2 separate regions of the Homo sapiens genome follow, and region 1 is linked to region 2. Evidence: fine-mapped QTL for protein levels in blood plasma. A gene starts in region 2. The other region holds a variant in brackets. All regions are shown on one strand. Distances are from middle to middle.

Evidence for each region. PIP is the chance, under the fine-mapping model, that this variant and not a neighbour inherited with it causes the effect. Sun 2018 read protein levels with aptamers (SomaScan).
Region 1: its variant is fine-mapped to the plasma level of the EVL protein (Sun 2018, PIP 0.95).

The regions. Positions count from the first base shown.
Region 1 is chr14:99,950,682-99,959,015 of GRCh38, reverse strand. No RefSeq gene overlaps it. Among named protein-coding and RNA genes, the nearest start is that of EVL, 110 kb to the left of the region's middle. RefSeq lists an enhancer at 7,975-8,334. The variant G/AG (reference allele first, on the strand shown) is at 3,924.
Region 2 is chr14:100,060,720-100,069,053 of GRCh38, reverse strand. EVL (Enah/Vasp-like) reads right to left here and starts at 3,632. Exons shown (of 14, transcript NM_016337.3): 1 at 3,543-3,632. The coding sequence starts at 3,553. LOC124903379 (a long non-coding RNA gene) reads left to right here and starts at 5,010. Exons shown (of 2, transcript XR_007064329.1): 1 at 5,010-5,924. RefSeq lists enhancers at 37-126, 208-502, 1-681, 1,257-1,326, 2,759-2,828 and 5 more.

The sequences.
Region 1 (8,334 bases), 110 kb after region 2:
GACAGAGCGAGACTCTGTCAAGAAAGAAAGGAAGAAAGAGAAAGAAAGAAACCTGGTAACCAGTTGGAGTCCCTTTTTCACATATCATATCAGTTTCCTATTGCTAACATAAGTTACCAACAGCAGAGTGGCTTCAAACAACACACATTTTTATTATCTTACGGTTCCAGAGCTCAAAAGTCTCTCTGGGCTAAAGCCAAGGTGCCAGTAGGGCTGCATTCTTCTGGAGGCTCTGGGTGAGTTTATTTGCCTCTTCCACCTTCTCTCAGAGGCTGCCCATATTCTTGGGCTCGTGGCCCCTTAGAATGGGGCCCTCTTCAAAGCCAGCCGCGGGGGTTAAGTCTCTCTCACATGGCATCGCTGACCTTTTGTCGGCAGTCGTGTCTCCCTCTGACCTCCTGTGCCTCTGTCTTCCACTGTTAGGGACCCTTGTGATGACATTGGCCCCAGTGGCTGCCAGTGTAATGATCCATGATAATCACCCTATTTTAAGGTCATCCGATTAGCAACCTTCATTCTACCTGAAACCTTAATTCCCCTTTGCCATGTAACCTACATATTCACAGGCATTAGGTTTGGGCATATTGGGGTGGATGTAAGGGGAACATTCTGTACATAAGTAATCTGATATCAGCTTCTGGCAGAACAAACAGATTACTTATATACAGAATGTTATCCTTAGAGTTCAGAAATTTCACTGGAGTGCAAAAAAAAAAAAACCCCAGATAACCATAAAAACATAATAAAACATTAGAAGTATAAAATACTCTTCTATTATAGGTAAGTTTTAGCTTAAAGAAGAAATCGGCCAGGCGTGGTGGCTTACGCCTATAATCCCAGCACTTTGGGAGGCTGAGGCAGGATGATCACTTGAGCCCAGGAGTTTGAGACCAGCCTGGGCAACATGGCAAAACCCTGTCTCTACAAGAAATACAAAAATTAACTGGGCGTGGTGGTGCGCACCTGTAGTCTCAGCTACTCGGGAGGCTGAGGTGGGAGGATTCCCTGAGCCTTGGGAGGTCAAGGCTGCAGTGAGCTGTGATCACGCCACTGCACTCCAGCCTGGATGACAGAATGAGACCTGGTCTCAATTTAAATAAAAAAAAAAAAAAGAAAGAAATCAATGTTAAAACTACAAATTAAAAAGAAATTAATGAAAAGGAGAAAACTTCAGAGCAACACTTATGGGATACAGTGATACCTTAAATGCTTTTATTATTATACAACAAAGAATGTATATAAATGGACCAGGCGTGCTGGCTCACGCCTGTAATCTCAGTGCTTAGGGAGGCTGAGGCAGGTGGATCATTTGACGTCAGGAATTCAAGACCAGCCTGGCCAAGATGGCGAAACCCCATCTCTACTAAAAATACAAAAATTAGCTGGGCGTGGTGGCACATGCTTGTAATCCCAGCTACTGAGGAGGCTGAGGCAGGCGAATCGCTAGAGCCCAGGAGGCGGAGGTTGTAGTGAGCTGAGATTGCGCCATTGCACTCCAGCCTAGGTGATGGGAGTGAAACCCTGTCTCAAAAAAAAAAAAAAACAAAAAAAAAACCAAGGCTGGACGTGGTGGCTCACATCTGGAATCTTAGCACTTTGGGAGGCAGAGGAGGGCGGATCACCTGAGGTCAGGAGTTCGAGACCAGCCTGGCCAACATGGTGAAACCCTATCTCTACTAAAAATACAAAAATTAGCCAGGCGTGGTGGCAGGCGCCTGTAATACCAACTACTTGGGAGGCTGAGGCAGGAGAATCGCTTGAACTCAGGAGGTGGAGGTTGCAGTGAGCTGAGATAGTGCCACTGTACTCCAGCCTGGGTGACAGAGCAAGACTCCGTCTCAAAATAAAATAAAAATAAAAAAGCAAAACAAGCAATACATATATAAGTGAATTAAATATTCAACTTAAAACACAACAAAATAGGCCGGGCGCAGTGGCTCATGCCTGTAATCCCAGCACTTTGGGAGGCTGAGGTGGGCGGATCATTTGAGGTCAAGAGTTCAAAACCAGCCTGGCTAACATGGTGACACCCCGTCTCTACTAAAAATACAAAAATTAGCCGGGTGTGGTGGTGGGTGCCTGTAATCCCAGCTATTCGGGAGGCTGAGGCAGGAGAACTGCTGGAGCATGGGAGGCGGAGGTTGCAGTGAGCCGAGATCCTGCCTCTGCACTCCAGCCTGGGAGACAGAATGACACTGTATCTCAAAAAACAAACAAACACACAAAACAGAACAAAAAAACCCAGCAAAATAAATAAAAAGAAATTATGAGGAGGAAATGAATAAAGATAAAAGCTGAAAATAGTGAATTAGATAACTGAAATACTGAAAAATAAAATTAAAATATGCTTCTTCAAAAAAAAATTGAAAACTCACAATGTGCAAGAAATAAAAGAGAAAAAAAAGCACAGAACAGAAGGAATGAGAAATGAGACAGACTCACAGGGGCAAATGAGAGGAAGTTAATTTCCAGGGGATGTTATTGCAGTTGCATTTCAATAAATGTCCACCTGTTCTACATGCAATGGGTGATTTTCTTAAAAATCAAGTAAGTAGAAATGTTGGTAATAGGGGAACTTAAATTGGAAGAATTTTAAAACCAAACTATACCTGGGGGCACCTGGGTGGTTAACCACTGGGGGAAACCAGCCACCTCGGGCCGTCCTTGAAAAGATGTGCATTGTAACTGTGAATAACTGAGCAGGCTCCTGTCAAGACAATAGTTGAGAACCATCCCAAGACTGAGCCAGGAGCCCGGCAGGTAGACCCCGCTCTGCCACCCTTCACTGTGGGGATTTGGGCAGGTCCTTCCTCTCCCTGAGCCTCTGTTTCCTCCAGAGGCCGCTCCAAGATGGCAGACTCTGGAGCCCCGTGGGGCAGGTGGAGGTGGCCAGGGCAGGGGGTGTTAGGGAGGAGGAAGGAACAAGATAGGGTGAGAGTGCTTCTGAGTCACCACCACCTCTGACTGCTTCTGCCAGAGCAGCCCCATTCTTAACCTTATTACAGAGTGGATTTTCTTGTATGATTTCATCTGAAAAAAGGTTTTGCTGCTGGTATTAGTCAGGGTTCTTCAGAGAAACAGAGCCAATAGGATGTATAGTGTATAGACAAATAGAAAGAGATTTATTATGGGGGATTGGCTTATGCGATTATGGAGGCTGAGATGTCCCATGATCAGCCATCTGCAAACTGGTGGCCCAGGAAAGCGGGTGGTGTGGTTCCAGTTCACATTTGAAGGCCTAAGAACAAGGGGAGCTGGTGGTGGGAATCCCAGTCCAGGTCCAAAGGCCTGAGAACCAGGAGCTTCAACGTTCTGGGGCAGGAGAAGATTGATGTCCTAGTAGATGTCAAACAGAGAGAGAAAGTTCGCCCTTCCTCTACCTTTTTGTTCTGTTCAGGTTCTCAACAAGTTGGATGATGACCCCCCAGCCCCCCCACCCTACCCCCGCATTGGTGAGATCAAGCTTCCTTAGTCTACTGATTCTCTTCTGGAGACACTCGCAAACACCACCAGAAAGAAGGTTTGACCAGCTCTCTGGGCATCCCTTAGCCTAGTCAAGTTGACACATGAAATTAACCATCACACTGTTGAAACAAAGTGTGAAAACCAGGTGATCCCCCAACTTCCGAGCTACTTCCACGTCCAAACTTCGTAACATTCACCTGGCAAAGTTCACTGGTTTTGCTTTGATAACTTTCTGGTTTCTTTGAGTGATAAAGATGTTCATAATTTAGCCCCGAAATGGAGATGAATATGTGTGTGACGTGTGTGTGTGTGTGTGTGTGTGTGTGTGTGTGTGTGTGTGTGTTCCTTCTTTCGCAAAACCACTGCCTAATTTGGAATATAATTTCAACTTGCTTTTCCAAAATGACCTAGAGCTTGGCAAGAGCATAGGGCTGATGAGCCTGTGAGGTGGGTAGATA[G/AG]CTTCCTCACACATGCCCGACTTTCTCCTTGGAGAATGATGAGGTTTACAGCCTTTAGGTAAAAATAGCTTTGTGTGGCTTCCGCCAGGAAGACACTTAAAAAGGGAGAGAGGATTAGGTTGCTAAAAAAGAAAAAAATCTACCAAATTGCTACCATAATTTTGGAATTCATTTTTGCAAAACATATCAGAAGACATAAAGATGATCTTGCCTGCTAACTCAGTAATTCCACTTCTGGGCATTTGCCTCAAAGAAATAAATTTAACTAAAAGAAAAGCTCAGTGGACAGCTGCTCACTGCAGTCTCCTCTGCCATAGCAAAACACCCAAAGCAAGAAAAGATGCTCAGGGTGAAGTGTGAAGGGCAAAGGGTACTGCAAGTTCAGAGGCTCACAGTCCACTCCTTCATGTATTCACCAAACACTTCTGATAACATGTGGGCACCAGGCACTGTGCTAGGTGATGGGAAAGAAGAGTGCCCGAGATGCAGAGTGCTTCCACCTTAGGGTGCTGATTGGCAGAAAGGCTGGAGGCACATAAACCTACACCCACAATTCAGCATGAGAAGGGAAGTACAACAGAGGTGGGGACACAGAGGAGGGACAAGAACCAGCCTTGGCACTCAGGGAAGCCTTCTCGGAATAAGTGACTTTTTATTTTTTTTTGAGACGGAGTCTTGCTCTGTCGCCCACACTGGAGTGCAGTGGTGCAATCTTGGCGCACTGCCACCTCCGCCTCCTGGGTTCAAGGGATTCTCCTGCCTCGGCCTCCTGAGTAGCTGGGACTACAGGTGCCTGCCACCATGCCCGGCTAATTTTTGTATTTTTAGTAGAGACGGGGTGTCACCATGTTGGTCAGGTTGGTCTCGAACTCCTGACCTCAGATGATCCACTGGCCCTGCCCTCCTAGAGTGCTGGGATTACAGGTGTGAGCCACTGTGCCCTGCTGGAAGTGACTTTTGAGCTGAGTTCTGAAAGTTATGGTGGTTGGCCAGAATGATGAGAGGAAGAGGGTTGGGGGCACAGAGCATGAGCAAAGACCAGGTGGCAACGAGAGGCTGCCGTGGTGGTTGGACAGAGAAAAGCTCTGTGGCAGGAGCTGAGAGATGGTGCTGGAGAGGAACCAGAGCTCACTGACCGGTCCTGTGTGTAACATGAAGGAGCTTTTTCCTAAGAATTTTTAAGCAGGAGAGTGATATGGTCAGATTTATGGTTTGGAAAGGTCACTCAGACTGCCTGGAGGAAGGTCAACATGGCTGCAGCCAGGCCAGCAGTGATGGTGGCCCTCCAGGGCATAGGCAGCATCCGTGGAGAGATGACGTGGACACGTGCCCTGGCTCCTCATGGAGCAGAGCCCTCGATTCTGGAAGAGGCAGAATGGTGCTGTGGTTGAGTGTGATCTTGGAAACCTGACTACATGGGTTAAAATCCCAATTGTTTCACTGTGTGACCCTCTCACAGGGCTGTTGAGAGTGTTGAAGGAGCCGTCATGCATAAGGCACCTCCAACAGTACCTGGCAAGGGGTGGGTAAGAGCTCGCTGAGTGATGCTATCGAGGTTGTCACTTATTGGCTGCTTGCTGATACAGGCAAGAGGAACACCCACATGCCTGGCATGGGCCACTGGGAGGATGGCATGCGGGTTTTTGGGGGAGAAGTGGATGAATTGGGTTTGAGCATGTAGAGATGGAGGCTCCAGTGAATGAGCAGATGGAGACATCCTGCAGGATGTTGAACACAGAGGTTTGAAGCTAGGAGACAGGCTGAGTCAAAGATAGTGATTGGGACCTTGTAAGGGTTGAAGAGGCGGCTGGCCCCAGGGAGCTGATGAGATAACCTGGGGAGAAGGTGGAGGGAGAAGAGAAGAGGGCCCCGAGAGAGCTCTGTGGCAAAGGGATGGACCAGGAAGGTTTTTTTCTAACAGGAAATATTTGAGCCTGTCTAAATGTTGATGGAAGGAGCATATAAAGCACAAGTACACTGTGGAGAAATGGCATTCAGTAAGGGTGGCCTTTAGTATTTTTTATTATCATCATTATCACCATCATTACCACCACCATCACCATCACCACCATCACCACCATCACCACCATGATCACCAGTGTGAAAGGAAAATATCTTGGGCCCCTTCAAGCTGGGAACCGCTCAGGACAAATCTGCCTCTCATTCTATTCAAAGTCATCCCTCTGCTCACAGAGATACATGCATATTCTGATTGCCTCCTTTGGAAAGACTTATCAGAAACTCAAAAGAATGCAACCATCTGTCTCTCACCTACCTGTGACCTGGAAGGGAAGGGGTGGGGGGGTTGCTTTTAGTTGTCTCTGCCTTTTTGCATGGAACTAATGTAATTCTTACATATATTCATTGACGTCTCATGTCTCCCTAAAATGTATAAAACCAAGCTGTGCCCTGACCACCTTGGCACATGTTGTCAGGACTTCCTGAGGCTGTGTCACGGGTGTGTCCTGAACCTTGGCAAAATAAACTTTCTAAATTAACTGAAACCTGTTTCAAACTTTGGGAGTTCACAACAGTATCACCACCATCATCATTACCATCATCACCACCATCAGCATCACCACCATCATCACCACAATCATCAGCATCACCACCATCACCATCACCATCACCTCAGCATCACCACCACTATCACCACCACTAACACCGCCATCACCATCACCATCACCTCAGCATCACAATCATCATCATCATCACCATCACTATCACCACCATCACCATCATGTCAGCATCACAATCATCCTCATCATCATCACCATCACTATCACCATCATCACCTCAGCATCACAATCATCATCATCACCACCATCATCAGCATCACCACCATCACCATCACCTCAGCATCACAATCATCGTCACCACCACAATCACCATCATCATCATCACCATGATCATCAACATCACCATCACCTTCATCATCACCATCACCACTAGCAGCAGCATCACCACCATCACCACCACCATGAAACATCACAACCATCATCATCACTATCACGCCGTAACCATCTCCACCATTATCACCACCATGATCACCAGCATCACCACATCATTGGCATCAACATTATCACCATTACCATCACTGCCATCATCAGCACCACCACCACCACCATCATCATCACCATCACAATCTTCAATATGAGAAGACTGTCAAGGAGCAGTGATATAGATTATGGCATCATGTTATGCAGCTGATAGGAGTTATTTATAACAAAGTTATAATGACATGGGAAAATGCCTATAAAGCTACATGAAAAAAGCAATAGAAAGCATTGTATATGCAATATGTTAACTATGGAAACACATCCAAAACTACTCGAAAAAGAAATACAGGAAGGAAATGTGCTCAGAAGTAATAGTGCTATTTCAGGGTGGTAGTGATATGGCTGGGCTTCTTTCTGAATTTGCTATAATGAGTCTGGATGAGTTTTATGATTTAAAGCACATTAACCTTCATTTTCTAAAAAGAAGCAAAGGTGGGCAGCTGGGGGCTGCCCGAGCTAAGGTCACAGCAACCTTGGGTAAATCCCTGTTCTCCAAAGGGCTTTGATTCTGCCTTTAAAAAGAGGGAGTGGGCAAAAGAGCCTTTCCCCCGAGGTGTGCTGAGTCTCTGGCCTAGCAGTGATGTCCCAGGAAGGAGAAGCTGTGCAGTTAGACAGCCTCGGGGACCTGGCACTCTCACACCATGCCCTGGTATCTTCAGCCAGGGGTGTCCCCAGCTGGCTGCAAGTCTCAGGCCCTTATTCTGTCACCACACTCTCTGCTCAAAAGCCACCTCCTCTGCGTGCCTGGGCTTAAGTAGCCCTTGTGACTACCGGCCCCTCCCCGCCCATCTCCAGCGGGAACAGTCTCCTCAGCCTCTTCATTGCTTTCTCCATTCACAGTTCCATGAGAGCAAGAACTCTGGTATCCCCGGCCCCTAGGATGTGCTGCCTCAGGGTAGGGGTGGTGTTTGTTGGGTGAATAGATGAACACAATAGCCCTTCTCGACTCACAGGGCATATTAATGCGTCTAGCTCAGTGCCTCCCCAACACAGGGGCTATTAACATGCTTTGGAATTGGGTTTCACAGAACATACTTTGGGAGATGCTCCCCCAAGACGACCCCTGAGCGTCACTGCAGCCCCACCATTCTATAAGTGGTTAACAGAAACATCTCTGCTATGGGGTGGGCAGGTATCACGAGCATGGCAGACGAGCGTGGTGGCTGTGCGGCTGCCCTCTGGACCCCAGATCCCTATGTCTGGCTGAGTCCTCTCCCTCCCCTACTTCTGGCTGACGTCTGAGCCCTGGAGCTGCCTCAGCCTGGGAAAGAAGTGCAGGAGGGAACTTGCCAGAACAAGGTAGAGGCCTTTCCTGTAGCATCAGTTTCTGAGAATGCTTTCAAATGGAGGAG
Region 2 (8,334 bases):
GGGGTAAAGACAGTATACAGTAGAACAAGTAAGTTCTATAATACGTTAGAAGATAGTACGTGCTTCGGAAAAACCCACAGCCTACCAAAGACAACAGAGAGACCAGGGAAGGAAACGAAATTAACTGGCTGGCCCCAAAAGTGGCAGACATATCACACATCCATATCACGTTTCCTGCTGCTGCACCGCGACCTCAGCTACTTCCTGCTCAGGTCAGCCTTGTTCAACCCACATTTCCTGGGAACCTGTGCTGCTAGGCCCACACCTCTACAGATTCTTCCAGCTAGCACCCCAGCTGCCCCAGCGTGGTGAAAGGAATCACCACCCACCTAAGCCATGTCTGACTCATGTTTCCCCCACGCCCATGTGTGATCCACCAGATAGTCCTGGAGGCTACAGCACCACGGCACTTCCTGAATCTGGTGACTTCTCACCGCCTACCCTGACTGCTCCACTGCTGGCCCAAACCACCCTCACCTCTTACCTGGATGACTGCGGTAGCCTCCCAAGAGGTCATCCTGCCTCCATTCTTGCCACACTGCCAGCCATTATCCACACAGGGCCCAGAGTGATTTTCTTAAGCTTCTATGAGATGTCTTTCCCTTTGCTTCAAACCCTCCCTCCAAAGGCTTCCCCTAACTAAATTCTGACATACGCGCTAAATTCAGCACAGCTCGCAGGCTTTGCCGTTGGGCCTGATAAAGCCTTCTGTGCCCTTATTTGCCTTCACTCTTCCTTCTTCATGTTGCTCCAGCCTCTGTATTTTTCTTGACCCTTGAACCCACCAAACCATTCCTATCTCAGGGCCTCGTCCCCAGCTGAGGATACTTGCTGCCCTTTCCACCCCAAAACCTTCAGATTTTAGCATGGCTGCCTCATGTCCCCACATGTCCCCTAAGGCGTGGCCCAGTCACTCTCTACCACACTGCTCTATTGTTTTCACGTCTCTTGTTGATGGTTTCTTGACTATATTCTGCCTCCCGACTCTGCCCTCAGTTTGAGGACAAGACTGCCTGTCTTGTTTACCACTGTGTCCCTAGCACCCAGAGCAGCCGCTGGGTGACTGGTTGCCTGTGATGCCTGCCAGTGCCTTCTAAAAAATCATCCCTATTCTTCAAAGTTCACCTGAGATCCCACTTTCTCTTTGAGGTCTTCCCTGACAGTCCCCAACTTCTCAACTCTTACTGCCCCTCCTGTCTATGCTTATTACTCTCTGTGCTGCAGGGTCCTCACAGCCAGTCGCCTCCTCATTTCTGTGAGTGCTGTCTTCCTCACTCCCTACCAGTCCCTGAGGACAGAGGCAGCTCTAATTCAGGCGTAAGAGCAAAAGGGCAAAGCATCTGTGGTCAGGAGGCACAGGTTCAAGTCCTGGGTCTATCACTCACTGGCTATGTCTCTTGTCAAGTTACTCTCTCCTGTGAAACAGAAACAATAAAAACAATGCTAGCTGGGTGTGGTGGCCCACACCTGTAGTCCCGCTGAGGCAGGAGGCTTGCTCGAGCCCGGGAGTTTGAGGCCAGCCTGGGCAATAAAGCAAGACCTCATCTCTAAAAAATACAAAAACAAAAACGCCCCACAACACTACCTTCAGGATTATTGCGATAACTAAATAACGTCAGTGAAAGCATTCTGTACGTTGTCATGCACTCAAGAGAATTCCCAGCTCCTAATCCAGTCAGGGCTTGGAAACTGTTTCTTGATTGGTGGGTAGCCAGAGCTAGAGCTGGTAAGATATATTTTCACATTTAAAAGGTCCTTTGTATCCCCACCACAGGCGCCACGGTATCCCCATGTGTCAGTCAGCATGAGGAAAAACGAAAAGTTCACAGCTCCTATGGCTGCTGACCTTGCAGCTCCACGAACGCTGCTTCCACCAGGACTGTCACTATGGTGCCAGGCCAGGGACCTGTGGCAGAGTGCAAGCAGCCTTGTACGGGGGAGGGACGCACCAGAAAACCTGGGCTTTTGCTTTGGTTCAGCCACTACTCCGCTCCCCGTACACAAATTCTGCTCCACACTGGGCCTCAATTTCCTGATCTGCGCACTCAAGAGCTGGGCTAGATTAGTGTAATCTTCAGACTTGAAAGTCATCACCACCACCAACAATGACTGTTTTTTCTCAATGAATTATCAAGGAATACATAGAAAACATAAAAGCAGAGTTATTTTGGCTGAAGTGGAGAATAAGGTGCCCAAAACATCTTATCTACTGTAGATCACCTCCAAGGTCTTTTCAAGATGGAAATTTCTAGGATTTCTACGATTTTAAAATTGAAAAAGAAATTGCTGTGCCTCATTTACTTTTGATATAATTTTCTGCAATTAGTAATTGACACGGTAGAATAAGCTGCTAGAAGTTTTCACAATGTAATTTACAACTGAAAATGACTTTGGAAGTTGATATGCCTTTGAAATGAAAAGCATTCTGTTTTCTAAAGCTCCACTCACGAGTCCTCTAAAGTTAAAGGAAAGTTACTAAAATGACAGGATCAGAAATAAAGCCAACTGGAAAATAAGCAGCCCTGGACAAGTTCTACCTATCACCACGTCAATTTTAACAACTCACTGCAAGCTGCTTCTGTGCCTGTGTAGCGTGCTGCGAAAACCACCGGATGAGGCCAACCTCGTTAAACCCTGGTTCCATTCCTTCCCCAACCTGCCATGTGACCTTGGACAAACCCCACAACTTTTCAGAGGTTTTCTCAGCTACGAAACAGGAGTGATGACAGCGTTCTCATCAATCTAACACGGCTAAAAGATTCAAATAAGAAAACTGGCGAAATGGCACTTTGGAAATTGTGAAATAATTTTCAAAGTGAGGGATTGTTACTTTATGCTAAAAAACAAAGCTGTCATGAGTCAATCAAACAAATGCCCCAAACCCCACAGGATAAAAGTCTGTCTGTCCTATCATCTATAATCTTTCAGAGTTGTAGGGCAGGGGAGAGGCAGGTCCAAAATGTAATCTCACCTTTAGAGAGAACAATCTCAATGAGGAGTGCGGTTTGTAGACTGGCTGGTATTCACACATGTGCTCAACAGCAATAGCCTAAGTCCACAAGTCTCTCAAGTGGAGGGTCAGGACTCTTGCTATTAAGTTCATGAAGTTCCTATCATAAAAAGAACCCTCTCTGCCTATATTTAGAAAAAACAACCAGTCTCGGGTCATTCTAGAGAGAAGGGCCAGGACTCACCAAATGTACCTCTGAGCTAAACAACAATTCCCCTAGATGGCTCAGACCCTCCTCCCTATAATGAGAGGCAGGTGCTAATTTCTAAGTAAGTCCTTGACTCAGAAGCCATTAAAGGTCACAGGCATCAAGAGACACAGGCCTGTGTAATGGAAAGACCAGCGGCTAGAGAGGGAGCAGACTGTCACTAACCTGCTGTGTAACCTCATGTAAGCCCCCTGCCCTCTGGTCATGGACTTCTCGATCAGTATACTAAGGGGACCTGAGATAATTTCTACAGCCCATTCACCGTTAAGATTCTAGGTTTCCTCTTGACATCCCTCTGTCCCCTGCACTGGTTCCAATACTCACCTTGTGGCCATGGCTGAAAAGTGGCAGCACAGGGAACCCTGAGGAGGCGAGTCCTGTACTCCCACCAGCCTATGTTGATCAGAGGACCACAGACCCTCTGAAGACAGCAACTTGATTTTTATAGCCTACTTAAAACCAAACAGGAAAAGGAAGCTGAACCAGAGACAAAGGGGAAACAAACCCAAGTGAAAAACTGAAACCTAGGTAGAAAATAGAGAAACAAGAAGCTAACACTGCAGAGCCCCACCAGCGTGGGCGGCTGAGAGGCACTGCACAGGCCCAACCCCCCACAGCTGGCAACCTCAAGCCTCTAAGTGCTTCCTGCAAGGGTGCAAGGGTGGGTGAAGCCTGCTGGAGGTAGGGGCCAGGTCATGGTGCTGGCCCCCCACTAACTAGCTCTATAGTCTAAGTCAATGCCACTTAAGATGTCTGAGCTTCAGTTTTCCATCTGTTATAGAAAGTGCAGGCTCAGCACAGATGACTTCCTATAGGCCTTAAGAAAAGGCTACAAGAACTCGGAAGAGTCCCCACTGACTCTCCAGAGAATAGAAGACTAGATGATAAAGGCTATAAGCTGATCAAGTCTTTTTTTCTTTTTTGAGACAGAGTTTCACACTCCTGTCACCCAGGCTGGAGTGCAATGGCACGATCTTGGCTCACCGCCACCACAGCTTCCTGGGTTCAAGCGATTCTCCTGCCTCAGCCTCCTGAGTAGCTGGGATTATAGGCATGTGCCACCATGCCCAGCTAATTTTGTATTTTTAGTAGAGACGGGGTTTCTCCATGTTGGTCAGGCTGGTCACGAACTCCCGACCTCAGGTGATCCGCCTGCCTTGGCCTCCCAAAGTGCTGAGATTACAGGCGTGAGCCACCGCGCCAGGCCACTGATCAAGTCTTCATATTTGACTCTGGAACAAAATTTGTACTTCTACCGAGGAGACAACTCTCTCTAATGATGACATTTAAGTCAGCAATTTAGAGCCTGAAAGGAAAACACTTGAGGAATACTGGAAACTTGGCTTTGTCACTTGTTTATTAAGTGGGTGGCCTCAACTGTAAAATGGGGTTATACTTATTTTGCCTATCTCCACAGGGTTCTCATGAAGGTAAGATCCAGTCCAATCTTTCTTTCAAAATCTACTGAGAACTCACTAAGAAGCATGCACTGTGTTAGAAATCACAGACAAAAAATTGAGAACGACTGTACTTGTCCTTAAAGGACTTTTATGGTTTAGAAAAGAAGAGGTTGATAATGTTAGCAAATATTTAATAGATCCATTAAAATATTATTGATATAGTGAAAAACAGCTGTACAGAGTACAGTACAAAAGAAGTATCAGTTCTAATTGGAGAGATGAATGCACTTTGAATGCTAAAAATGCATTTTAAAAGGCTTTTAATGATATACATTTCCCTTTAAGCACTGTTTTAGTTGCAAACCACAGTTTGGATGTATTGCAGTTTTCTTTTTTCTTTTGGTTCAAAATATTTTTAATTTTCTCTAGTGATTTCTTCTTTTATCCATGGATTATTGATAAGTGCTTCGTTAAATTTTGAAATATTTGGTGTTTTCCTATATCTGTTGCTACCTATTTCCAATTTAATTCTACTGGGGCCAGAGAACATATTTGGTGTGACTTCTTCCTTTGTTTTTCCTGGTATGATCTCAATCCTTTCACATTTATCAAAATGTGCGTTATGGCCCAGCATGCAGTCTACCTTGGCGGATGTAGCATATGCACAAGGAAAGAATGTGTATTCTGAAACTGGTCGGGTGCAGTGTTCTAGAATGTCAATTAGGTCATGGTGGTTAATAGTATTGTTCAGAACGTCTACGTCCTTGTTACTTTTTGTTGCTGTTGTTTGTTTTTGTCTAATTATTCTATCAACTGCTGAGGGAAAGGTCCTGAAATCTTCAACTGTGACTGTGGATTTCCCTCTTTAATTCTGTCACTATTTCTTGAAGCTCTTGTTAGGTACATTTTTCCATGCAGCATTGGTTTTCTGCGGCTGCTGTAACAAATTACCACAAACTGAGTGGCTTATAACAACACACACTTATTATCTTAGAGTTTTGTAAGATGATAGGAGGTCAGAAGCCCAACATCATCAGAAGTTCCACATAGGTCTCTCTTGCTCACCTCTCTCAGCTTCTGGACACTGACTGCATTGCTTTCTCATAGCCCCTCTGTCCACTTTCAAAGCACGCAGCAGTGCTCCGACCCTTCTTCCACAGTGACATCTCTTTCTGACCGCGGTGTGGACAGGTTCTCTACTTTTAAGGACTCGTGTGATTAGACTGGACCCAATGGATAATCCAAGATAACCGCTCCATCTCAAGGTCCACAACTTTAATCACGTCTGCAGAGTCCTTTTTGCCATGTAAGGTAACATTTTATTTATTTACTTTTTTAGAGGCAGGGTCTCTTGCTGTCACCCAGGCTGAAATGCAGTGGTGTGATCATAGTTCACTGCAGCCTCAAACTCCTGGCTCAAGTGATCCTCCTTACCTCAGCTTCCTGAGTAGTTAGGACTATAGGCACACACCATCATGCCTGGCTAATTTGAAAACAGTTTTTTAAATAGAGATGGGGTCTTGCTATGTTTCCGAGGCTGATCTCAAACTCCTGGCCTCAAGTGATCCTCCTGCCTTGGCCCCCAAAGTGCTAGGATTACAGGCATGAGTCACCATGCCCATCCCATGTAAAGTCACACAGTCACAGGTTCTAGGGATTACGGCGGGGTGATGGCATTACTCTGCCTACTACCCATCCTTTCACTTTCAGTCGATTTGTATCTTTGTATTTAAAGTATGTCCTATAGGTAGTGTATGACTGAGTCTTGCATTTTCACCCAGTCTGACAATTTCTATCTTTTAATTGGGGTATTTAGTCTATTTACATTTAGTTTATTGATGTAGATGGATACAGGTCTACTACTTTGCTATTTGTTTTCTGTTTGTCTCATCTGTTTCTGGTTCCTCTGTTCTTCGTTTCCTGTATTCTTGTGGGTAAACTAAATACTTTTCAGAATTCCATTTGAATTTCTCTATTGACTTTTTAGCTATACCTCTTTTTTTTTTAGAGGTCTTTCTAGGGATTACAATATACATTCTTAACTTTGTAGGGTACACTTAGAGTTAATATTGTACCACTTCAGTAAAATGTTAAGAACTTCATAATTGCATAATTTCATTCTCCATTCCCATCCTTTATGGTGTAGCTGTCATATGTTACTCAAAATACAATGTTACATATTTTTGTTTTGGACAGTCATATATATATATATACATATATATATATATACACACAGCTGACTCTTGAACAGCACAGGTTTGACCTTCACAGGTCCATTATACTACTATTTCTTTTTTTGAGATGTGGTCTCACTCTGTTGCGTAGGCCGGCGTACAGTGGTATGATTACAGCTCACTGCAGCCTCAACTTCCTGGGCTCAAGCAATCCTCCCATCTCAGCCTCCCAAAGTGCTAGGACTACAGGCATGAGCTACCACCATGCCTGACCCAGGTCCACTTGCACATGGAATTTCTTTTACCTCTGCCACCCCGAGACAGCAAGACCAACCCCTCCTTTTCCTCTTGCTCCTCAGCCTATTCAATGTGAAGATGACAAGGATGAAGAACTTTAAGATAATCCATTTCCAATTAATGACTAGTGAAACTAATGAAAACATATTTTCACCTATGATTTTAATAAAATTTTTTCTCTAGCTTAATTATAAGAATACAGTGTATAATACACATAATATACAAAGTATGTATTAACCAACTGCTTATGTTATTGGTAGGGCTTCCTGTCAACAACAGGCTCTTAATAGCTAAAATTTTGGGGGATGCAAAAGTTTAGGTGGATTTTCAACTGTTCGAGGGGCCAGTACCCTAACCCCGGGATTGTTCAAGTCATGTGCGTGTGTGCGTGTATTGAAGAAATAAAAGTCTTTAGGTTTACTCATATATTTCTCTTTTCTGGTAATCTTTATCCATCCCCGAGCACTTGAATTTCCTGGTATCTTTTTTTTTTTTTTTTTTTTTGCAGCCTGAGGAACTTCCTTTAGCATTTCTTTTTTTTTTTTTTTTTTTTTTTTTTTTGAGACAGGGTCTTGCTCTGTCACCCAAGCTGGGTGATCTCAGCTCACTGCAACCTCTGCCTCCCAGGCTCAAATGATCCTCCTGCCTCAGCCTTCTGAGTAGCTGGGACTAAGGACATGTGCCACCATGTCTGGTGTATTTTTGTATTTTTTGTATTTTGTAATTTTTGTATTTTTTGTAGAGAAGGGTTTCAACATGTTGCCCTGGCTGGTCTCAAACTCCTGGTCTCAAGGGATCCGTCCACCTCAGCCTCCGAAAGGGCTGGGATTACAGGCGTGAGCCACCATGCCTGGCCTCCTTTAGGATTTTCTGTACAACAGGTAAGTTGGCAATACATTCTCTTAGTTTTCTTTTATCTGAAAAACATCTTTGTCTTCAAGCTTCAAAGCACTTTTTGTGAATAGAGAATACTGAGGTTTTTTTTTTTTTTTTGTCTTTCAGCACTTTAAAGGTATTGTTTCATTGTCTTCTGGCCTCCATGGTTTCTGAGAAGTCAGCCATCATTCACATATAATGTATGCAATGGATCCCTTTTCCTTTGGTCATTTTTAATATTTTCTTTTTCTTTCGTTTTCAGCAGTGTGACTTTGATGGGTTTAGGTGTGGTTCTTTTTGCATTCATTTTGCTAGGGTTTCACTGAGATTCTTAGGTATGTAATTTAAGGCTTTTCACCAAATTTGGGA